Regions from separate parts of the Homo sapiens genome. Here all the other regions are linked to region 1. A link means that fine-mapping ties the variant in region 1 to the plasma level of a protein whose gene starts in the linked region. Region 1 holds a variant in brackets. A gene starts in each other region. All regions are shown on their reverse strands.

Evidence for each region. A credible set is the group of variants that fine-mapping cannot tell apart. PIP is the chance, under the fine-mapping model, that this variant and not a neighbour inherited with it causes the effect. Protein levels are from antibody-based Olink assays in UK Biobank. Linkage for the fine-mapping came from a reference panel and not from the study's own genotypes, which makes the PIPs less certain.
Region 2: OLR1 starts here. The variant in region 1 is the best candidate, but not a certain one, in a credible set for the plasma level of the OLR1 protein (UK Biobank, PIP 0.72).
Region 3: it holds the start of OSM, and the variant in region 1 is the best candidate, but not a certain one, in a credible set for the plasma level of the OSM protein (UK Biobank, PIP 0.52).
Region 4: it holds the start of MMP9, and the variant in region 1 is the best candidate, but not a certain one, in a credible set for the plasma level of the MMP9 protein (UK Biobank, PIP 0.64).

What each region holds. Positions count from the first base shown.
Region 1 is chr11:73,232,610-73,238,686 of GRCh38, reverse strand. P2RY2 (purinergic receptor P2Y2) reads right to left here. Exons shown (of 3, transcript NM_002564.4): 3 at 1-4,531. The coding sequence starts at 4,527. The coding sequence ends at 3,394. Among named protein-coding and RNA genes, the nearest start is that of P2RY2, 17 kb to the right of the region's middle. RefSeq lists enhancers at 549-843, 1,429-1,478. The variant A/G (reference allele first, on the strand shown) is at 3,453.
Region 2 is chr12:10,170,760-10,176,773 of GRCh38, reverse strand. It overlaps OLR1 (oxidized low density lipoprotein receptor 1), which reads left to right and starts at 4,642. Exons shown (of 6, transcript NM_002543.4): 1 at 4,642-4,772. The coding sequence starts at 4,697. It also overlaps a transcript of TMEM52B not described here.
Region 3 is chr22:30,266,397-30,272,374 of GRCh38, reverse strand. It overlaps OSM (oncostatin M), which reads left to right and starts at 5,524. Exons shown (of 3, transcript NM_020530.6): 1 at 5,524-5,609. The coding sequence starts at 5,576.
Region 4 is chr20:46,005,485-46,011,549 of GRCh38, reverse strand. MMP9 (matrix metallopeptidase 9) reads right to left here and starts at 2,642. Exons shown (of 13, transcript NM_004994.3): 1 at 2,486-2,642; 2 at 1,452-1,684; 3 at 919-1,067; 4 at 500-628; 5 at 234-407. The coding sequence starts at 2,623.

The sequences.
Region 1 (6,077 bases):
CTCATCTGCTAAATAGGATCATAGCATCTACTTCCCAGGGCTTCTGTGAAGCATCCACCATATAACATAGATGAGAGGGTGCGTGGGACATGGGTCAATACACGACTTCCCTCCCTCATGTGCCTGATTCTAAACAGAGCAGCCCAAATCTGCCATGACAAGGGTGACAGAGAGGTAGCTTTGGTGACTTGACCTGGAGCAACCATGTGTGGATAACATGTTGCTTAGGGCCTCTTCTAACCTCAGGGGGTGAAAGTGGGAATGTACCCTGGGGTTCCTCCATCCCTCCTGGACCCTGGGACACCTGCCACCCAGGGCAGAGACCCCTGTGTGCCAGGGACCCTGCCCTGATGTCATGCAGTTCATTGAGAACAGCTGCTGCAGGCACATCAGCAGACATTTACTCCCTGACACTCAACTCTCTACCCTCCCTTTCCTCCCATCCCTGTCCTGTCCCTGGCCTCAGGTCTATGGCTCCATCCCAGTCACCCTGGGCAGGAAGAGCTGGGCAGTGTGAGTGACAGCAGGATCGTCACCAAGGCACTTGCTTACATCCAGGCGCCACGCTGACCTGCTGAATGACCTTGGGCTCAGCCCTGCCCATCTCTGGCCTTGAGTCTGCAGCTGGGCTGGATAATCCCTGGGGTCTGCTCAGTGGATGGGCAACTCACGTGCCCTTTCACAGTGGCCTTCATGAGTCAACAGCCCAGGAAGTGATGTCAGGTTAGGGAGGTGTGAAGGGGGCAGGGAATATTGGAGGGTAATAGGAGATATTTTGAGGGCAGGCAGATCCCCTCACGTCACTGCTGGACAATGGTCTGGGGCCAGGAGTGGAAAATTATGGTCTTACTTGGGCTGAAAATAGCATGAGGCATCAGGGCAGGAACTTCACCCACAAGGCAAGTGGCCTGGGCACTGAGCAGCAAGGTGGGACGTGCATACCAAGGGGCCAGGCAGTCCAACTGGGTTCCAGAGGTGCCCCTGGTTCACCCAGGGTCTCCAGTATCCACCCCCACCTGTGCCTGCCACAGGATTAGATGGTGAACGAGCCCCTCCTGTGTCCTTGTGGAGTGGCTCGGGCCTGTGGGAAAGGCTCAAGGGTGGTTTGTAACAGGCAATCATTAAGAAAGCTCAAGAGGGGCCGGGTGCGGTGGCTCATACCTGTAATCCCAGCACTTTGGGAGGCTGAGGCAGGTGGATCACTTGAGGTCAGGAGTTTGAGACCAGCCTGGCCAACATGGCGAAACCCTGTCTCTATTAAAAATACAAAAATTAGCCAGGTGTGGTGGCGCATACCTGTAATCCCAGCTACTTGGGAAACTGAGGCAGGAGAATTGCTTGAACCCGGGAGGCAGAGAGTTGCAGTGAGCCAAGACCGCAGCACTGCACTTCCAGCCTGGGTGACAGAACAAGACTTCGTCTCAAAAAGAAAAAAAAAACTCAGAAGGACATCGGCTACATTAACAGAAGTATAGAACCTAGAAGGTGAGAGGTGAATAGCTCACACTATTCTGGGCAGGTCACCCACCTGGCACAGTACAGAGTAATCATTTGGGTCATGGTCTGTGATGGGTCTCTGTCACATGAGGGCGCTGTGGAGTCAGGCTCCAAATACAGCAAGCTTTGGGGATGTCCTGCCTTTCACAAGGCAGAGTGGGAAGGGTGGAGAGGTCAGAGGGGGCAGGCAGAGTGGGCCACAGGGCGAGGGCTCTCCCAGAGGGAGAGGAGGGAGTCCCTGTCCTTGAGATCAAGAGTGAGGCCTGTCAGCTTTGCCCTGTCCCTTTCCAAAGGCTAGGGCGGGGCCCTGTCCAGCTGAGCGCCACACGTCAGCCCAGAGTGGTCCTGGCTAGACTCAGAACCTATCATAGGTGAGACCCATCTCCCCCATACTAAGTCCTGACCCAGCCTGAGCACCACCCTGCCATTCTGGGATTTTCCCAGAAGGCAGACGATGGACAGGAGGAGGAGTGAATCTCTTTCATATTTACCCCCAGTGCAAAGGAAGCCTCAGGGTCAGGGCAAGGAGGGAGCCCTAACTTGGCCTCCTTGTGACCCAGCCCCAACCCTGCCTTGAGCCTGGAGTCAGCTGTCCAGCCTGCTTATGGCTCATGCACACCCTGCCCTCTTGCCCCATGTCTTTGCCTGGGATGCATCCTGTGTGTGGATGTTCTTCCGGTGAGCTGCTTTTCTCAGAAGCTACAGCTCAGGAGTCTCCCACTCCAGGAACCCTTCCCTGACCCCCTGGCTCACAGCCCCAGCCACTCGGCATTATCCAGTGGTGTGCTAGAGTGACTTGTACCTGCTTGCAAGAACCAATTGTTAAATTTTCAGGAATTTTACAAGGAAGTTGACATCATGTTTATAGTTTGAATTTGGCCATAAGAGTTTTTGCACCATGGAAATGGGCAGTTCTACAAAGAAGGGGTTCCCAGTTAAATCGGAGCTCCAGTTAAATGGCTTAACATTTACCAGCACATGACTGGCCATCACCTAAACTGGGAAATCTCAAGGACTGGGACTGCACCTGACTTTTCTCTGTGCTCAGCACAGAGTCAGGCACAGAAGCCAACTGGCTTTACAGTGGGGGATGACCTGGGGCCTGGAGAGAGGATCCCTGATATGAGACTACTCCTGAGACAGCTAGTGAGAAGGCAGGTGGCAGAAGGGAACGGATTGGAGAAAGGACCCTTGTGTGGCTGGTGAAAGCTTCCCTGCCATATCCTCATCCCCCGACCACACAATAGGGCACAGCTCAGCAGGCAACACAACCTTTAGTATAAGTTACAGCCTCACACTGGCTCCTAGCCCATGGGAGCCTCCAGATGGGTCTATGATATTAGTCCCCAGATGTTCATCTCTTGGGCTGGGGGTACTCCTCAGAGCTAAGTCCACCGTGGCACCCAGTCCATTCCAGACCACTGTGCAAACTCAGCCCTCATTACTTACCAGGGTTTTCTGGCCAACCTGTGACTTGGCCCCCACCCCAGGTAGCTCAGCTCCAGACTCTGGTATGTGATCTTGGTAAGCCACCTTCCTCTCTGGGCCTGTTTCTCCATTTGACTTGATTAGGCTGGACTCCAACCTAGGTACCTTGGCAGTACAGCCAGCTACTTGCATGGGAGTCAGGCCAGGGGTGTCATTGACCTTGAGCTCTTGCCTTTCTTGAAACTTAATTCCCCCAACTTATACACACAAACGATGACTAGGGGTTATGGGAACAGTTGACTCTGGACCACAGAGTGAATATCCTGAGCCCCTGTCAAATGACGGAGCATGGGGTCATCCAGCATGAGTCACTGATGGTCCATATCTGGGGAGACTGTGGCGTCTGCACAAGTCCTGGTCCTCTACAGCTTCCCAATATAAACCTGCACAGGCTGAAGTGTTCTGCTCCTACAGCCGAATGTCCTTAGTGTTCTCGCTACCAGCCGGCGTGGACTCTGTCCGCCTAG[A/G]GTCCTCACTGCTGCCCAACACATCTTCTATCCTCTGCATGTCAGTTCTGTCGGATCTGCGCAGGCCCAGCCTGCGGCGAGCCGGGGTGGCAGGGCTGGGGCCAGTGGGTGGCTTGGCATCTCGGGCAAAGCGTACGAGCCTCTGCCCAGCCAGGAAGTAGAGCACGGGGTCAAGGCAACTGTTAGCACTGGCCAGCGGCCGGGTAACCTTGTAGGCCATGTTGATGGCGTTGAGGGTGTGGCAGCTGAGGTCCAGCGAGCGGAAGGAGTAGTAGAGGGTGCGGGTGACGTGGAATGGCAGGAAGCAGAGGGCGAAGACAGCCAGCACCACGGCGATGGTGCGCACGGACTTGCGCTTGGCCCTAGGCAGGCCGCCCGAGGTCCCGTAGGCTGGCTTTAGCAGTCGCCGAGCCATGAGCACGTAACAGACAAGGATGACGGCAAAGGGCACCGCGAAGAGCAGGCCCAGCATGACTGAGCTGTAGGCCACGAAGCGGCTGAAGAGCTCGGGTGCCGAGGTGTCGTGGCAGGTTACGCGGCCCCCGCGCGCGCTGGTGGTGACAAAGTAGAGCACGGGGGCCTGGCAGGCCAGCACCAACACCCACACGGCCCCGGCCACCCGGCGAGCGTAGCGGGCCCGGCCCCAGCGCAGGGAGCGCAGAGGTCGTAAGACGCCCAGACACCGGTGCACGCTGATGCAGGTGAGGAAGAGGATGCTGCAGTAAAGGTTGGTGTAGAAGAGGAAGCGCACCAGCTTGCAGAGCACCGTGCTGAAGGGCCAGTGGTCGCCGCGGGCGTAGTAATAGACCAGCAGCGGCAGGGAGGCCGCATACAGTGCATCAGACACAGCCAGGTGGAACATATATGTGGTGGACGCATTCCAGGTCTTGAGGCGGCACAAGAAGATGTAGAGCGCCACGGCGTTCAGACACAGCCCAGGCACGCACACCACGCCGTAGGACACAGGCAGCAGCACGTACTTGAAGTCCTCGTTGAAGCGGCACCTGTAGCCCAGCTCATCCCCATCCCAGGTGCCATTGATGGTGTCATTCCAGGGGCCCAGGTCTGCTGCCATCGCCCTGCAGGGAAGGGAGGGGTGGGGCCATCAGGGTTGTGGCCGGAGCGCCCCTAGGGGACCTGACACAGCCACCTGACCAGGGCTTTCATTGCCATCTGACTTGGATCTGGACCTGGAACCTCCAAGCTCTGGAACCTTGAGAATGCATGAGATCAATGAATAAATATCAGGATCACACAATTGTCAAACTTGAGAACAGGGGTAGACAAACTATAGTCCAAAGGCCAGATCCAGTCTGCTTTTGTAAATTCAGCTTTGTTGGAACACAACGGTGCCCATCTGTTTACAAAGAGTTGAGTAGTTGTGATAAAGACCATATGGCCTGTGAAGTCTAAAATATTCACTATCTGACCTTTAAAAAAAGTTAGCTCAAGCTGGCTACGGTGGCTCATGCCTATAATCCTAGCCACTCAGGAGGCCAAGGCAGAAACCAGGTGTTTAAGCCCAGCCTAGGCAACAAAGTGAGACCCCATCTCTACAAAATTCTTTTAAAAATTAGCCAGGCATGCTGGCACACACCCGTAGTCCCAGCTACTTGAAGTTTTCTTACCCCTCTCTAGAACCTCAGGATCAGAGTTTTAGATCTAGGATTCTGAGCTCTAGAATCTGAGGACCTGGGGGTGCCAGAGCAGGTAATTTTGAGTTCATGGGAAGGGGCCTTTGAGGCTGGCTGGCCCTGCTTCACACCCAATGCCTACTGCCTGCAGAGGCATTTCTGGCCAGTGGGCATCCAACAGCCCCCTGCAGGCATTACAGAGTTCTCTCCAGCTCATTTTCCCACTCTCTGGGAGGCTCTGGGCCCATGCCTAGTGTTCTGGTATTTGAGGAAGTATTTCCAAGGGTCTCCTTCTTCAGTTATTCCTTCACTTTTTACATCTTCCTCTATTCTGGCACTTTCTATATCTATCAACAGCAGTCCTGCCCCTGAGCCTGTGAGGCTACCAGGGAATCCCCCTGAAGTAACCCCCGTGAAGAGTCCAGGGAAATCTGGGTTGGAGATAGGGATAGGGGGCCAAGGGATCTTCTTTTGTGTGGTAAATGCAGCTTCTTCCATGCCTATCCAGTTTCTCTCTGCATATCGTCAGTATCATGGTGTCCCCCCCAACCTTGTCCCCACTGAGCATATAACACACCCATGGGGACTGACCATCCAACAGACAGTGAGTGCCCAGGGAGCAGCTTGTCCCCTCCCTCTCCTCCTTACCCCTACCCAGGTGACCAATTAAGAGCTCTCTCGCAGCTGGGAGGTAGAGGACAGACATCCCGGCCTGGAAGACAAAGACGTGCCTAACGTCCCAGGAGGCAGGTTGGAAATCATAGCAGAAGTCCTGGGTGGGCAAGTTTGAGAAAAACACAAAAAAGCACTTTCTAGCAGTGTGAAGGGGCAGGAGGAGCTAACATTTTTCAAACCCTACTACTAAGCATGCTTTCTAAAAGTTATTCACTTAGGCCGGGCGCGGTGGCTCACACCTGTAATCCCACCACTTTGGGAGGCTGAGGCGGGTGGATCACTTGAGGCCAGGAGTTCAAGACCAACCTGGCCAACA
Region 2 (6,014 bases), not on the chromosome of region 1:
TATTTACTTGATAGCCTTATACAGATTAAATAAGTTAATGTGTGTAAAATGAATATAACAGTCCTGATATTTTTTGTGTTTGCTAAGATTATTTTGATTTTCACTAAAGTTTACCAGTGACCTTTACTTTCAAGATTCTGGATAATTACTGTCCTTTATGCTTCTCTTGTATATTTTTATACCATTCCCTCTCCAGACCACATTTTAGTCTCCTGATATTCTAATTCTTGAATATTTTTCCTTGCTAGCCTGGCCACCTTTTCTCCCAACCACGCCAGCCTTCACCTGCCTAAACAGGTTTGCTGGTTAACATGACTCCCCGCTCGCATTGCACTTTTCTAACACGTAATTGCCATCATCTTTTTGCCCTCCAGCTTCCAAACAGGTTTGAACAAAATAGGTTCTGTTAATGACCTCCTTGTGACTTTCCTTTCTTAGAATTATTACTACCCTTTTTTTTTTTCTCACCAGATTAGTCCCTGGAAAGATAAAAGTTTGTTTTTATCCTAATGAATGAGATTATGCCTTGGGGCAGCTTTAACTCTGAATCCTGTCCCTAACCAAGCCTCCATATAGGGAATGATGAAAGAAGAAAGATAATTCAGACAAGAAGACTGAACGAAGTACACTTTGGACAGGTACAGAAGGGCAGGTAGCTGGGATAGAGGGAAATGGTCTCATTACAATCCTATACAATCTTGTGCAGTTCCATTAAGCTTGTGAATCATTAGCTTATGTCCAGGTAGTTAAGGACTTGGAGTGGAACCAGTAGAGGGTGCATGTACATAGAGTTTTACACCTATGCTTCAGGGAATTGTTATACAACTGGTGTAACAAGTGTAGCCAAACAAATTGCTTACTTCTGGTTCCACTGATCATTCTCCTTTTGACCTTGCCTAAGTCAGGTGGCCAACTATGGATTTCTTTCCTCTCTGTGCCTCAATAAAATAGAGGCCAGGACTCTGAGGCATCAACCTCAAACTATAAGTCAGTGGGTAGGGCCACAGCCCTGATTTCAAAAATAAATAATATAGCAGAAGAAGTTTCATCTTTGCAACCCTTGGGAGATCCCTTGGGAAGTGTTTCTGTCTGATAAGCCAAGATCACAGCATAGGGATTGAGTGACAGCTTCAAAGGCACTGAAATCAGTAAAAAGATTAGAGTTAAAAAAGTTAAACAAGACAGAAGGATTCAGTTTATCATAGAATGTTTTAGGTTGATATGCTGTGTAACACATCACCACAAATTATGTGAGCAGCAAGGTAAAACAATGTACTTTTATTATTTCAAAGTATCTGTGAGTCAGAAGTGTGGGCACAACTTAGTTGGGTCCTCTGCTTGATGTCTCACAAGGCTGCAGTCAAGGTGGCTGCTGGGTTGCACTCTCATCATGCATTCTCAGGTGAGCCTGGGAAGATTCACTTGCAAGCTCCCTCAGGCAGAATTTATTTCTCTATGGCTGCAGGATCCATTTAAGCTTGCTTTTAAAAATCTAGACAGGGAGATAAAGATGGAAATAGGAGAGGGAGAGTGACTTTAGCATAATAGTCACTATACCTTACATAAGCACACGTAGATGATCACATACATTCCAGCACCTCTGCTACACTCCAAGTCATAGGTCTCACTCACACTCAAGGGGAAGGATTACACAAGATCATGAACACCAGGAGGCAGGAATAATGAGAGCCCTCTAAAATTTTTCAAATCTGTCCAGTTATCTGCCACACAAGGACTGTAGAAACTATCCCACTGATCTTTAAAAACAGGATAAACCCAAACGTCCATCAATGGATAAATAAAATGTAGAATGTGGTTTATACATACAATGGAATATTATACAGACTTTAAAAGGAACAAAATTCTGACACATGCTACCACATTGATAATTGTTGAAGACATAATGCTAAATAAAATAATTTAGATACAAAAGGACAAATATTATATGATTCCACCAGTATGAGGTGCCTAAAATAAACCAATTTATAGAAACAAAAAAATGGAACGGTGGTTTCCAAGAAAGGAGAAAGGAATTGGGATTTGTATTAGGTCTGTGCAGAGAAAGAGGATCAATACGCTGTGTACATACATAGAAATAGGTTTATTATAAGGAATTGGCTTGTATGATTATAGAGCCTGGTAATTTAAAATCTGGAGTGTGGGCTGCCAGACTCGGCCAGCGAGTGGAGAACTGGGAGAGTTGATGGCTGAGTTCCAGTCCATAGACAGCTGGGGGATTCTTTCTTATTTGGGGGAAGGTTAGAAGCTTTTTGTTCTTTAGGCCTTCAACTTTTGGATGAGGCCCACCTACATTATGCAGCGAAATCTACTTTCCTCTTCTGATTAATATGTTAATCTCATTTAAAAGCATCCTGTCTGGGAACCCCATGACCCAGTCAAGAAGACACAGAAGGCCAGCACGGTGGCTCACGCTTGTAATCCCAGCACTGTGGGAGGCTGAGGCAGGCGGATCACTTGAGGACAGGAGTTCAAGACCAGCCTGGCCAACATGGTGAAACCCTGTCTCTACTGAAAATACAAAACAATTAGCCGGGAGGGGTGGCGGGCACCTGTAATCCCAGCTACTCAGGAGGCTGAGGCAGGAGAATTGCTTGAACCCAGGAGGCGGAGGTTGCAGTGAGCCGAGATCATGCCATTGCAATCCACCCTGGGTAACAAGGGTGAAACTCCATCTCAAAAACAAACAAACAAACAAACAAACAAAACACATGAAATTCACCATCACAGGAGTTATTGCTTGGTGGGTATAGAGTTTCAGTTGGGGAAGATGAAAAGTTCTGGAGATGGATGGTGGTGATGGCTGCACAACAATGTAAATGTACTTAATGCCACTGAACAGTACACCTAAAAATGGTTGAAATGGTAAACACTTTATGTTCTATAATATTCATGGCATCCAAAATAACTGAGTCACTGTAGAAATGATAATGTGCCCTTTTCAGTGTGATATCGTTTCAGTATTTTTTAATTCTTTTTTTTTTTTTTTTTTAAAGGGAGTCTCGCTCTGTTGCCCAGGCTGGAGTACAGTGGCACAATCTCAGCTCACTGAAAATGAAAAGCATTTTCATTTTCCACCTCCCAAATAGCTGGGATTATAGGCTTGCAACCAGGCCCAGCTAACTTTTGTATTTTTAGTGGTGACAGGGTTTCAACAGGTTGGCCAGGCTGGTCTCGAACTCCTGACCTCAGTGATCCACCCCCCCCCTCAGCTTCCCAAAGTGCTGAGATTACAGGCATGAGCCACTGCACCTGGCCAACTTTTTCAATTTGTTCTCAAATACTCTGCACATAATAAAAGGAATATAGGAAACAGGGAGGAGGAGGGAAATGGAATCCTAATTAGGCTGTCAATATTGGTAATTTTTCCTAATAGTTTCCTATATGTTTTATTTATGTATTTATTTTTCCATTCTTCCTTTGTGTATTCTTTTCTTTGCACTTTTTTTTCCTGGAGTAATTTAAAGTAAATGCCAGATATCATATCATTTTGCTTATAAATACTTCCTTCAGAAGACATCTCTAATAGATATATATCTGGTTAGGAGGTTGTCAAGGGAAAATAGAAAAGTATTCTATCAGTAAATACATATAGACATACTTATGGGTCTCTCATGTAAGCGTCTTTGTGACATGAGTCAATCATGGATTTTACTGAAATACATTATTTGATGGGTAATTCAACTGTGCTGAATATTAGTACTATACTAATAATTATTATTTATTGGCTTCTTATTATGCTCCAAGTACAAAGCTTGTCATTTTTAACCAGCGTGTCATTTGAATTCCTATAGCAACGTGACATTTTTCACAAACCTAGTGTAAAAAAGCTTATTATTTTTACCCAGCATGTCATTTGAATTCCTATAACAATGTTATCAGGTAGACATTATCCCTAATTTCCAGACATGTCATTTGAATTCCTATAACAATGTTATCAGGTAGACATTATCCCTAATTTCCAGACAAAGACATAGATTCAAAGTATTAAGATTTCCCAAGATTGTAGACTAAAGGAAAGTACTGAAACTAGCTCTTTCTGCATTCAAAGTGCTCTCTGCTGCTACGTTACACTGGCACTGCATGAACTAGTAGCCCCAGATAAATTCTAAAATCACCCAGGACACACCATCGCTGGAAATGGGAGCCATATGTGATTCACCCCAAAATTCTTAGATCCATTGCCAGATAAAACAGTGAAAATCAAAAGAGAATATATCTGATTCGTAAAAGACACCATATAGAAACAGTCTGCTAATGAAATTAGCAAACAAACATTGGAATCAAATATTTTGGCCCATAATTCTGGCACATTTTTTACAAATGTAGTGTGACTTACTCTCTTTGAATTTCAGTTTCTGTCTCTGAAGAGTGGGTACAATATCTCTCCTCTGATGCTCATGAAAAATAGTTTTCCCTTTCATAAATTACTTAGCGAAATATCCTGAAACACCTTCAGAATCACCACTTTCTCCACCTGCAATACACATAACTCAAGAATTTGCGTCAGCGAACTTCCCAATATGAAGCAAAGCCTCTCCTTCCTCCTACCAATGATTGAGTCATTCTTCTATTAGATAACAGTAGCTATTTAAATACTTCTGCAGAAGCTCACATATTTTTAGTTTGTTGAAGTTCGTGACTGCTTCACTCTCTCATTCTTAGCTTGAATTTGGAAATGACTTTTGATGACCTAAAGATCCAGACTGTGAAGGACCAGCCTGATGAGAAGTCAAATGGAAAAAAAGCTAAAGGTACTAGGGATGGGAAAATGTGTACAGGGAAAGAATCCCAGTGTTAGCCCCAAAATGTAAATTCACCGAAGAATGGGATTAGAAAGCTAAACACCCAAGTATGGGAAAATAGAATTAATACCATTTACTTAAAAGAAAAACAAGAAGGCTATAATGATGATGATGATGACAACTTATTTATAACAATTTATACTGAGTATTTACTACAGGTTATTCTATATGTTATTCACTTTCAGAGTATTATTTCTCAGAATCTTCGCAATAACATTTTGAGATTGGTACTATTACTATCTCCCTTTTACAGAGAGCTAACTGGGCATCAGGAGGACTAACAACATCATCCAGTTTCACGGAGCTAATAAGTGGTAGAGCTAGGACTGTACCACAAACTCCCATTTATCCAGAATTCTATACATCGGAGGGCTCGGGAACCAAATTTATCTGGTGTATATAACGATAATTTCTGTAAGAGTCCTTCAGGCACTACAAAAACCTGAAGTACCTCATGAATTATGCAGGCAAAGTAAATGATATTCAGTATAGTTTAGCATAAGTTACATTTTGTTGTGTACTACTGCTTTGAAAAATTGTAAGTTCTGTTTGACCCATACAGTAATTAAATTGCATAGCTATAAATTAATTCATAATCCCAATTCCACAGACAATCTGGGTAAATTGCCTTTTATTCTATATCTGTTCTGAGGAAAATGAACAGAATATAAGGAGAGAAAGAGAGACAAGTATTGTCAGAAATTTGGATAAAGAAATTCCAAATTACATTTCCAAAAACAAAACAGAAATTTCTCTCAATAGAGAACATAAGTGTGAGCATGGAGTGATTTAACATTTGAGCCAATGAACTAAATTGCTATAAAAACTGCTGATATTTATAGGTAAAACCAGAAGTGAACAATAGTCATTCGTTTCTTTACTCATTCATTATTTGTGTAGTAAATATTGAGGGTCTGAATTTTACAATAATCATGAGATTGATTTTTCTTTCAGAATCTTGGTTAGATCGGTACCTACTGCAAAGAATCGGATTGGTTTATGATTGGAAAATCACTAGTAGGGGCAGCAGTTGGATTAATGGTCTCTGCCTACCAAGGACACAGGACAAAGAGAATCTATAGAAAAAGGGAACACATACCTTCCTTCACAGGGTCCTGTGATTTTCTTTTTCCTCTAAAAATTTAGTTTTTCATTATTTAAGAGTGATGAGGCCAGGCGCGGTGGCTCACG
Region 3 (5,978 bases), not on the chromosome of region 1:
AGTGGTATGAATATGGCTCACTGCAGCCTTGACCTCGCAGGCTCAAGTGATCTTTCGGTCTCAGCTTCCTGAGTAGCTGGGACCACACAGGTGCAAGCCACCATGCTCAGCTAATTTTTAAATGTTTTGTAGAGATGGGGTCTCACTTTTTTGGCCAGGCTGGTCTTGAACTCCTGGGCTCAAGTGATCCTCCCATCTTGGCCTCCCAAAGTGCTGGGATTACAGGTCTGACCACTGCACCTGGCCTATGTTTTCAATTCTCTTGGGTGTATATCTAGGAGTGGAATTGTTGGTTATATGATATCTCTATTTATTTTTTTTTTTTTTGAGACAGTGTCTCACTCTGTCACCCAGACTGGAGGGTAGTGGCACAATCTTGGCTCACTGCAACCTCCGCCTCCCAGGTTCAAGCAATTCTCCTGCCTCAGTCTCCCGAGTAGCTGGGACTACCGGCGAGTGCTACCATGCCTGCGTAATTTTTTGTACTTTTAGTAGAGTTGGAGTTTCACTACGTTGGCCAGGCTGGTCTCAAACTCCTGGCCTCAAGTGATCTGCCGGCCTCAGCCTCCCAAAGTGCTGGGATTACAGGCGTGAGCCACTGCCTCTGGCCTCTGTGTTTAACCATTTGCGGAACTGCCAAACTGTTTTCCAATTTGGTGGCACCATTCATTGTAGATTCCCACCAGCAATGCCCCAGGGTTCTCATCTCTCCATCTCCTCGTTAGCACTTGTAATTGTCTACCTTTGATTATAGCCACCCTAGTGAATGTGGAATGGCTTCTCATGGTGGTTTTGATTTGCATTTCCCTGGTGTTTAGCATCTTTTCACGTGCTTCTTGGCCATTTGTATATCTTCTTTTTTTTGGAGAAATGTCTATTAAAATCCTTTGCCCATTTTTAAATTGGATTGCTTGTCTTTTTCATTGTTGTTCAGTTGTCATTGCAGTTTAAAAAGAGGAAACTGAGGCTCAGAAGGGGGACATGACTGGTCCAGGGACACTGGGCTCACAGGCAGATTGAGATGGAACTTGGGTTGGTCTCCACCTCCCACCCAGCAGATTGGGGGCCACCTTCTCTCCCCCCACCAGAGCACCTCTCCCCAGCCTCCAGTTTCGACCTGGCCCTGCCAGGCCATCTCAGGTCCTATCCTTGCATTTAAAGGCGTAGGGCCCCACAGCAGAGGGTAAGCCGGAAAGCGAGGAAGCAGCAGTTCTGAGGAACCAAGCTGGTCCTCTCTTCCTCTCCAAATCACGCGGGCCTGGCTGACGTGGCCCGGGAAGAGGGGACAGCCCGGGTCCTGTGGTCGGGGAGCCTATTTATACTGGCTGGGCCATGTTGCAAGCTTTTCCTGCTGGTGAGAGGGACGTCACTGATTGCTGACCTCACCAGAAACGCTGACGCATCTTTCCTCACGCTTGGCTGGGATGGTCAGCGGCCAGGCCTCCTCACCTCCGAGCCACTCCCTGTCCTCCTGTGTATCACTTCACTCTGGATGCTCCGACAGTGGCCCCAGCCCCTGTGCCCTCCAGCTATGCCTTCCTCTTGCAGGCTGCATGGACTGAATGGTGTCTTCCCTGAACTCATGTGTTGAAGTCCTAACCATCGTGTGTCAGAACGTGACTGTATTTGGAAGTTGAGCCTTTAAAGAAGTAATTAAGGGCCGGGTGCGGTAGCTCACGCCTGTAATCCCAGCACTTTGGGAGGCCATGGCAGGCAGATCACTTGAGGCCAGGAGTTCGAGACCAGCCTGGCCTACATGGTGAAACCCCGTCTCTACTAAAAAAATACAAAAATTAGCCAGGCATGGTGGTGGGCACTTGTAGTCCCAGCTACTCGGGAGGCTGAGGCAGAGAATTGCTTGAACCTGGGAGGCAGAGGTTGCAGTGAGCCAAGCTGGCGCCACTGCACTCCAGCGTGGGTGACAGAGTGAGATTCCATCTCAAAAAAAAAAAAAAAAGAAAAGAAAAAAAAAAAGAAGTAATTAAGGTAAAATTGGCCAGGTGTGGTAGCACATACCTGTAATCCCAGCTACTCTGGAGGCTGAGGCAGGAGGCTCGCTTAAGGCCGGGAGTTCAAGGCTGCAGTGAGCTATGAAAGCACCACTGTACACTTAAGCCTGGGCAACACAGCAAGACTTTGTCTCGAAAAAGAAAAAAAAAAGGAATAATTAAGGTAAAATGTGAGTGGGCCCTAATCCAATGTGAATGGTGTCCTCATAAGAAGAGATAAGGCCAAGCGCGGTGGCTCGCTCCTGTAATCCCAGCACTTTGGGAGGCTGAGGCAGGTGGATCACCTGAGGTTAGGAGTTCGAGATCAGCCTGGACAACATGGCGAAACCCTGTCTCTACTAAAAATACAAAAATTAGCCTGGCGTGGTGGCACACGCCTGTAATCCCAGCTACTCAGGAGGCTAAGGCAGGAGAAGCGCTTGAACCCAGGTGGCAGAGGTTGTAGTGAGCTGAGATCGTGCCACTGCACTCCAGCCTGGGTGACGGAGCTAGACTCTGTCTCAAAAAAAAAAAAAAATCGATTAGGCCACGGACAAGCAGAAGGAACATGATGTGGAGATACGGGGAGAGACAGTCATCTACAAGTCAAGGAGAGAGGCCTTGGGAACCAGCCCTTGATTTCAGACTTCAGCCTCTAGAACTGTGAGAAAATAAATCTCTGTTACGTAAGCCCCCCAGTCTGTGGTACTTTGTTATGGGAGTCCTAGCAATGTAATCTACCTGCTCTCCTTACCTTCAGTGACTCTGAGCCCTGGGCCCTGTGCCTGACACCCTCATTAACTATGTGCAAAGAGTATGGTCTTTGGGCCTCGTTTGAATGCCTTCTTTTCTTGGTGGGTTTTTTGTTTTTTGTTTTTTTTAAACAGGGCCTTGCTCTGTCACCCAGGCTGGAGTCCTGTGGCATGATAATGGCTCACTGCAGCCTCAACCTTCGGGGCTCGAGCGATCCTCCTGCCTCAACCTCCCTAGTAGCTGGGACTTCAGGTATGCACTACGATGTCTGGATAATTTATTTTTACATTTTCTGTAAAGACACAGTCTCGAAGTCCTGGGCTCAAATGACCCTCCTGCCTCGGCCTCCCAAAGTGCTGGGATTACAGGCGTGAGCCACCATGCCTGGCCAAATGCCCCTCTCCTCTTAACTATTCATAGGTGACCTCAGACAAAGCAACCTCCTCTCTCTGCCATGAGGAGACAGCACGGCCTCCCTGGACCACAGGATAGATAGAATAAGATAAAGGCATGTGGCTGTTTCTCACCAAGCGTGGTGGTCGGTCAGCCACAGCTGAAAATGGCCTAGACCCCTCTGCTCAGATCTGGCGCTCCTTCCTTGAGCCAGCCCCTAAACTTCCCAGAGCTTCGAGCTCCTCACTGAAGTGAGCTGAGGTGTCACTGCCCAGCGGCTTCTCTCCCCTGGCTGTTGCAGGATGAGATCGGTGGCTGGGTGCTGTGGCTCACGCTTGCAATCCCAGCACTTTGGGAGGCCAAGGCAGGAGGATCATTTGAACCCAGGAGTTTGTTATCAGCCTGGGCAACATAGTGACACCCCGTCTCTACAAAAAATAAAAAAATTAGCTGGGCATAGTGATGCATGCCTGTGGTCTCAGCTACTCAGGAGACTAAGGCGGGGAGCCTTGCTTCAGCTTAGGAGCTGGAGGCCACAGTGAGCTACCTACAATGGCGCCACTGCACTCCAGCCTGGGTGACAGAGCAAGATCCTGCATTTAAAAAAAGAGAAAAAAAGACGAGATCAGGGATGTGAAATGGAGAAGGATCCCCTCTTGGCATGGCCCCAGGAAACAGCATTGTGGGGGTGGGCACAGAGATGAGGACTTCAGCGGAAGCGACATTCTCAGGATGAGAATCCAGAACTGGCCCCTGGGGGTGGTGAGGGGGAGGTATGAGGCCTGGTGTGGTGAGTCCCAGCCTGGGTGCCGGGGAGTGGGTAGGGGCTGAAGAGCAGCCTCCTGGGCGTGGGGTCGCCTATTTTTGCCTACTACGTGATCCTCAGACCTGGGAGTGGCTGGTGCAGCATGGAGCCAAATAAAGGTTTGTCGAATGAATAAATGAGTGATGGGGAGAATGGGTGGCAACTGCCTTGGTGGCCACAGTGGGCATCGGGAGCAGGCATGGACAGGGGTGCATCCAACCTCCTCCTTTCTGGCTGCCCCAGCTCTCCTTGCTCAGGCGCCCCAGACCCCATGCTCCCTCCAGCTGGAGCAGCTCAGGCCTCCCTGGCAGCCTCCAGGAGTCCCACCCTGACTCCCCAGACTCCTGAGGGCCTCCTCCCACCCGGGCTTCTTAGGGTGCAGGCCAAGGACCCTCCTCTGGGCCTGGGAGATGTGCTGACCAGGCAGGGTCTATAGGCCTGGGCCAGCCTCTTGGCCTCCCTGTCTGCCTTCACCCAGGCCTCAGTTTACCCCACAGTAAAGTAGCAGTTTGACTAGGGAGGCGCTGTTCCCAGGGCCCTTTCGCAGAGGACCAACCTAAGATCGCTATCTTTCAGAGAAAGTGAAACCTGGTCCCCAACTGTCAAGGCGGCAACTCCCCCTCCCCGGCTTCCCCTCTGAGCTCACAGCTTCCCCATCTCCTCCTTCCCCCATCCCGCCCCCTCGACAGCTAATACTTGGAATCAGACCTTCATCTTTGCTTTTTCCTTCAGAGGTCTTTTCCTTTTATGTCCATGCTGGCAGCAACCCTGTGAGGTGGGCTGGGAAAGGCTTTTCTCCTCCTCATTTTATAGTTGTGGGTCTCTGAGGCCCAGAGAGGTTAAGTGACTTGCCTCAGGTCACACAGCACCTCAGCAGGCTTGAACCCTGGCCTCCTGTTTCTCTTGCTCCAAGTGTCCAGTTCTCCCCAGTGGAGCCTGCCTACAAAGACAAGGCCTGGCTTTGGGGAGTGGGCCTGGCAGAGGGTGCACGATGGGGGAAAGGAGACCGTCGGGAGCCGGGCTGGGGGATGCTGGTCCTGGGGCCTGAACCACAATCTCGGGGCTGCCAGCCTGCGTCTGGCTCTGTGCCCAGAGCCCGGTGGTTTCCGCTCACAGATGTCCCAACAGCCCCGGCGAGAGGGCAGGAAGGGCACTCAAGAAGGAAGATGTCTCGCTCCCCTCAGCCCCCAACCACCGTGTCCTGTGAGGCCAATGGCTCCTGGGCCAAGACTGGCCTGGGGCCTCCAGAGGCCCAGCTCGAAGTCCCTCCTGCCCATCCCTGGCCCAGTTCCCTGAAGATGGCATGGACCCTTTTCCTCCCCACTCACCCTAGGAAGGCTGAGGCTGCGGTTTTACATCATCCTTGGGCGTAGGGCTGACCTCGAAGAACGAATTCGAAGAAAACAGGAGGAGGAGCGGGCATACACCGCGCCCTGCGCCCATTGGCCGCCCGTGGAAATTTTGGTTTTTGGGGTCATGTTCCCAGAAGGCCTGCCCTCCCCCCTCCCCATCCCCACCCACCTCATGAGGTGTTGGCCAATCGCCCCAGCGGGCATAAAGTGGCTGCCAGCCTGCAGGGCTCCCAGCCGAGAGGTGTCACCCCCAGCGGGCGCGGGCCGGAGCACGGGCACCCAGCATGGGGGTACTGCTCACACAGAGGACGCTGCTCAGTAAGTACTTCCTTCCTCCCCGCCAGAACCCGCCTGCTGGGTCTGCCCACGGGTGCCGGTGGGGAGCAGAGGCACCCTCTGCCCTCCGGGAACTGGGGAGGCCAGGCGCCAGGCAGAAGGATGCTGAGAAGGGGAGAGAGCCAGGAGGTCAGGCAGAGAGAGTGGTCCACTGAGAACCTGGCATCTCCACAGGTAGAGAAGGGGCATCCCTGGAAGGCTTCCAGGGGGAGGTGATGTCAAGATGTAGAGGCAACTCTGGGAACCAGGGGGTGAGAGAATAGGATGGGCAAAGAGGCTGGGCAGGAGAGGGAGGCTCAGAAGCTGGGCAGGGAAGTGGTGTGAGGTGTGGAGGGGTTGTGGGGCCTCCAG
Region 4 (6,065 bases), not on the chromosome of region 1:
GGGGGAGAAGGCGGAGACAGCACATTATAACCCCCAAGTGTGTCCTGTTCTTTGACCCATGGATGGTCTGCAGTTCATCCCATCTCTCATCATTTCTCAGATGAGAAAATTGGGCCCAGAGTGCGGGAGGGTGAATTGCAGGCCACACAGCACTAGTGGCAGAGCTGGAATTAGAACCCAGGACCATCAAGGGTGGTGGGCGCCCCCAGCCCTCGGCGAGCCCCCTCACTCACTCTCGCTGGGGCAGAAGCCAAACCGGTCGTCGGTGTCGTAGTTGGCCGTGGTACTGCACCAGGGCAAGCCGTCGGAGCGACCGTCGGTGGTGCAGGCAGAGTAGGAGCGGCCCTCGAAGATGAAGGGGAAGTGGCAGGCCGCGCCATCTGCGTTTCCAAACCGAGTTGGAACCACTGCAGGAGGAGGGGGGACCGGAGTTAGGGCGGCGGGTGATGAGTGGGAGAGAATGAAGGGAATCAGGGGCCAGGAGGACTCAGAATCTCACCGACGCCCTTGCCCAGGGACCACAACTCGTCATCGTCGAAATGGGCGTCTCCCTGAATGCCGGGGCCAGGAGGAAAGGCGTGTGCCAGGAGCCCGTCCTTCCCGTCGAAGGGATACCCGTCTCCGTGCTCTGAAGAAACAGGTCGAGAGGAAGAGGGTTAGCCGAGTACTGCTGCGCAGATTGTGCGCTGCCCAAGGCAAGGGCTCCGAAATAAGTGCGGGCTGAAATCCCGCCTGCGCGAAGCTCTCCCAGCCTGGCGCCCTGGCCCTGTGCACTGTCTGGCAGGAGGGGCCGTATAAGCCAGGGCAGCGCGGGCAGGCAAGAGGAAGCCGGGGCCACTGCTGCCTCCACGCTCTCCGTGGTCCTCCCTTCCCTGACCCCGCCCAGGTCTCTTGGATTTTCCCTCCTCACGTTCTCACCCGCGACACCAAACTGGATGACGATGTCTGCGTCCCGGCTGTACACGCGAGTGAAGGTGAGCGGCGTCACCGCGCTCCACAGTGCGAAGGCGCGGGCAAAGGCGTCGTCAATCACCGCCCGCGGCAAGTCTTCCGAGTAGTTTTGGATCCTGTAGCGTAAGAGCCAGAGGAAGGAGGTCAGAAGTGAAAGGCTGGAGCGGGGCAGCAGGGACACCCCATATCGCAGAGACTTCAACATACACAATGCTCTCTGCCGTCCACGCTCTCATCTATAAATTGCTTCCAGACTGTTTTTTTTTTTTTTTTTTTTGTCTACTTAGACCCTCACAATGGCCCTGGCAGGAGGACTTGGATTGCAAGAGCCATTTCCCTGAAGGAGAAACAGAGGCTCAGAGGTGGGGACACTCCCCAGGGGCCACACATTAAATAGTGAAACCCAGGGACGCGTCCAAGACAGGACATGTTCACCGCTGGCCCAAGAGCCAGACCTGGCCTCCCCGCCCCACCCCGCTGCCCCCACGGCCCCGGCTCACCAATAGGTGATGTTGTGGTGGTGCCACTTGAGGTCGCCCTCAAAGGTTTGGAATCTGCCCAGGTCTGGGACCCCGCACCGTGGGGTTCGCATGGCCTTCAGCGTGGCGCTATCCAGCTCACCGGTCTCGGGCAGGGACAGTTGCTTCTGGAGAAGCAGCAGCGCAGGCCCCAGAGATTTCGACTCTCCACGCATCTCTGCCACCCGAGTGTAACCATAGCGGTACAGGTATTCCTGTGGATGAAGGGACACACACATGCCAGATCTCTGACCCCTTTCTCTGCCCAGCTGGGGCCAAAGGACTCCCTCCAGACACTCATGGAGGGAGTCTTTTTTCTTTTTCTTTTTCGGAGAGACGGTATCAGCCCACTGCAGCCTGGACCTCCTGGACTCAAGCGATCCTCCCATCTCAGCCTTCTGCATAGCTGGAACTACAGGTGCACATCACTGTGCCTGGCTATTTCTTTAATTTTTTTGTAGAGACAGGATCTTACTATGTTGCCTAGGCTGGGCTCAAACTCCTGAGCTTCAGCGATCCTACCACCTCAGCCTCCCAAAGTGCTGGGATTACAAGTGTGAGCCGTCATGCCCAGCAGGGACTAACATTTAATAAAGCATTAAATGCTTTCCAGACACCAGTGCTTTCTGACCACCCAGGGATCTCCCCTCCTTAGACATCCTCAGCTCCTTCTCACCCCTGGATGCCTCTAGCCCATTTCTACCCCACAGCTGCATAAGGTTTGCCCCTGTTCACTCCCAGCCTATGCTTACCCCAGAACCCTCCAATGCCTCCCCCACCCCAAACCATTTCCCATTTCCCACCTAGGAAAGCCCCATTGCCCATTTCTGGCCATCACTGCTCAAAGCCTCCACAAGACCCCCCACTGCCTAACCCTGGACACCTCTGTTCTTCAGATACGCCCATCACCACCAACACACCCCTAAAGCATCTCCTCTGAGGCCCTGCATCCTCTCTGGGACACTCAACACCCTCACGGACAGCCCTCCCCAACTCTAGACTAGGTGTTTGCCCACCTCTGCCAGCTGCCTGTCGGTGAGATTGGTTCTCAGGTCTCCAGGGAAGAGCACAAGGGTGGACTGGCGCTGTCTGGGGGCAGCAAAGCAGCAGCCCAGCACCAGGAGCACCAGGACCAGGGGCTGCCAGAGGCTCATGGTGAGGGCAGAGGTGTCTGACTGCAGCTGCTGTTGTGGGGGCTTTAAGGAGGCGCTCCTGTGACCCCACCCCTCCTTGACAGGCAAGTGCTGACTCAGGGGTCAGGGTGTGTGTGTGTGTGTGTGTGTGTGTGTGTGTGTGTGTGTGTGTGTGGCAGCACCAGCATGAGAAAGGGCTTACACCACCTCCTCCTCTCTCCACTGCCCGCAGTCTCCACTGCCAAGTCAGGCAAGACCCCAGACCCGCAGGAAACCGCAGGCCCTCAGGGGAGGGGTAGGGTTTTGCAAACTGCAGAGCTTGTGGGAACTGTATGAAAGGGAGGGAGGGGGATGAAGCTGGAGGGATCCCCCATCCCTTGGTCTGAAAGCCTCCAGTGGTCAGCCAAGGGAAAGTGATGGAAGACTCCCTGAGACTTCTTTCTGAAACTAATGATCCCCCTGGCCCATCCTTGGCCTTTTGCAACACCCCCTCCCAGGTCAGATATCCTCCCCAAACCCCTCCCCACACTCCAGGCTCTGTCCTCTTTTTCCCTCCCTGACAGCCTTCTTTGACTCAGCTTCCTCTCCCTGCTTCATCTGGGGGCGGAAGGAATGGGCTCTGCTAGGCAAGGCTGGGGAATTCCACTGGGGCAACCCCCTGTCTTCCGCAGGCTGAATCTTCAGGGCAGTAAAGGGGACAGTAGCAGCCTCTAGAAAACAGCAGACATGGCTTTACTCTCTTCCTTCAGGACCTCGGGCAAATGTCTTACCACTTTGAAGTGTTTCCTCAGCTGTAAAAAAAAAAACGGGGGGTGGGGGGCTCTTTGTCCCTAAATTGATGTGAGGATTAAATGAGATCAAACATATAAAATGTTTAGAACACTGTAGGTTGTAAGTCCGCAACGGATGGTGGTGATTGGTTTTAATTACTAAGGCCAAGACCCAAGATTCAGGGCCAGGTATGGTGGCTCATTCCTGTAATCTTAGCACTTTGGGAGGCCGAGGTGGGAGGATTGCTTGAGCCCAGAAAGAAGGTCAAGGATACAGTGAGCCATGATTATGTCACTGCACTCCAGCCTGGGCAACAGAGCGAGACCCTGCCAAAAGACCATGATTCTAACTTGGAATCACCAAACCAGGTTATTGGGCTCTAAGCTGCAGTGTAACCTGGAGTAAATGCCTTCCCCTTTGTCAGCTTAGGATTCTTCAACTGCAAATTGGGGCAGGATATGGGGGAAAATAATCTATAGGAGCCCTTTCAGTTCTCCAGCCCTGCTCCATGCAGCCAAATCTCCAGCCCCAATTATCACACTTATGCCAAGCCTCCCTCCCAAGCCTCCCACACCAGCAGCCTCCCTCACTCCTTTCTTCCTAGCCAGCCGGCATCGGGCAGGGTCTATATTCACCTTCTTCAAAGCCCTATTTGGGAAAAACCTGCTAACAACTCAAAAAGTTGTATTTATTTATTTTATTTTATTTTTGGGGGGTGTAGTATCACTCTGTCACCCAGGCTGGAGTGCAGTGGCGTGATCTCGGCTCACTGCAACATCTGCCTCCCGGGTTCAAGCAATTCTCCTGCCTCAGCCTCCCGAGTAGCTGGTATTATAGGCGTGCGCCACCACGCCTGGCTAAATTTTTTGTATTTTTAGTAGAGATGGGGTTTCACTACGTTGACCAGGCTGGTTTCGAACTTCTGACTCAAGTGATCTGCCCACCTGGCCTCCCAAAGTGCTAGGATTACGGGCATGAGCCATGGCGCCCGGCCCAATAAGCTGTATTTAAAGGGCCTACTATGTGCCAGGCATTTTATATGCTTATCTAATAAATGAGACTGTGAGATGGAGATAATTAACTTCCTTTACAGAAAAGTTGAAGTTCTAAAGTTCACTAACCAATGAACATCTGCTTTGCAGTCACGAAGTCCTGGATTTCCATCCCGGCTCTGCCATTTTCCAGCTATGTGACCTTGGGCAAGTCACTTTACCTCTGAACCATAATAATAATAATGCATTTTTTGAGATTTACTGTGTCAAGCACCGTAATAAGTTCTCTATAAGCCTCTCGTTTCATCCTCACCACCTGTAAGGTAAGTTTAATGAGTATCCCTCCTGTTTTCAGAGGGGGAAACTAAGGCTCAGAGAGTTAAGGAATTTGCCTGTGATCACAGAGCGAGTTAATCCACAGAACTAGTGTTCAAGCCCAGAACTGCCTGGCTCTGAAGCTTTTCATCTTTATTACCATTTACAGGGAACTGTGATGACCCAGGTATAGAAGTGGGTAGGTGGATGCGGTGACAGGGGCAGCACATAAAACCTGGATGCTTCTCCTCTGGTCCCCTGCTACCCACTGAAGGTAAGAGAGGAGGCCCAGGCATTTAGGGAATCAGAGGCTAGGACAGGGGACCCAGGAGGAACTAGATTCTAGACTCGGGAATGTGAGGTCATAGAGTAATATGAGTTTAGAGGAACAGATCTTCCAATCTGGAGGATCTTCATCTGGGTGGCAGACACGGGCTTTTAGGAAAATCCGTTAACTACCCCCCACTTGCCATCAATGGTACCAAACATGACATACAATACATATCTATGTATGTATGTCACATAGCTCAAACTTAGCACTATTGGCACTTGGGGCTGTCGTGTGCATTGTAGGATGTTTAGCAGCGTCCCTGACCCCTACCCACTGGATGCCAGTAGCACCTCCCCCTGCCAGTTGTGACAACCAGAAATGTTACCAAACATTGCCAAATGTACCCTGGGTGAGTGGGAGGGGCAGACTCACCCCCAGCTACTGGTATATGTTGATTTTTCTATGTAAAGGGTCTAAAACTTTTATCAGATACTCAAACCATTGTTGATGATCTTCAGACCTTTTAAAGACCATTTACTCAACACATTCTAGTTGAGTTTTTCTAGGCCAATCATTATGCTAAGAATTGGGAATACAAGTAGTGACCAAGATAGCCTTTGTCTCATTGTTCATGGATCTGAGAGTTCAGCATGGGGAGAAATTGAATGAATAATTAATTACCAGAGAATCAGGCATCAAGAAAGGAAAGTGGATTTATGTATTCCAATTACCCTCATCATGCAATGAGGAAACTGAGGCTCAGAGTGGTCACAGAGCAAGAGCCTGCACTCTGGAGCCAGGCTGCCTAAGTTCAAATCTCAGCTCTGCCACTGACTTGCTGTGTGACAAGGGCAACTGACACAACATTTCAGTGCCTCAGTTTCCCCATCTGTAAAATTGGAGTAATAATAGTGCTTCCTTCATGGGGTGGTTGTAAGGCTCAAAGTGTTAGCAAATATAAAGTGCCTGGCACATGATAATAAGTGTTCACTGCTATGCTAATTAGGACCACCTTCAGGACAGCCGCTGTTTTTTACCAAATGGGAGCAGGGAGAGAGCAGCCAGGAAACCCAGATCTTGATTCCTGGAGTCAATCCAAATAAGAATCCTCCTT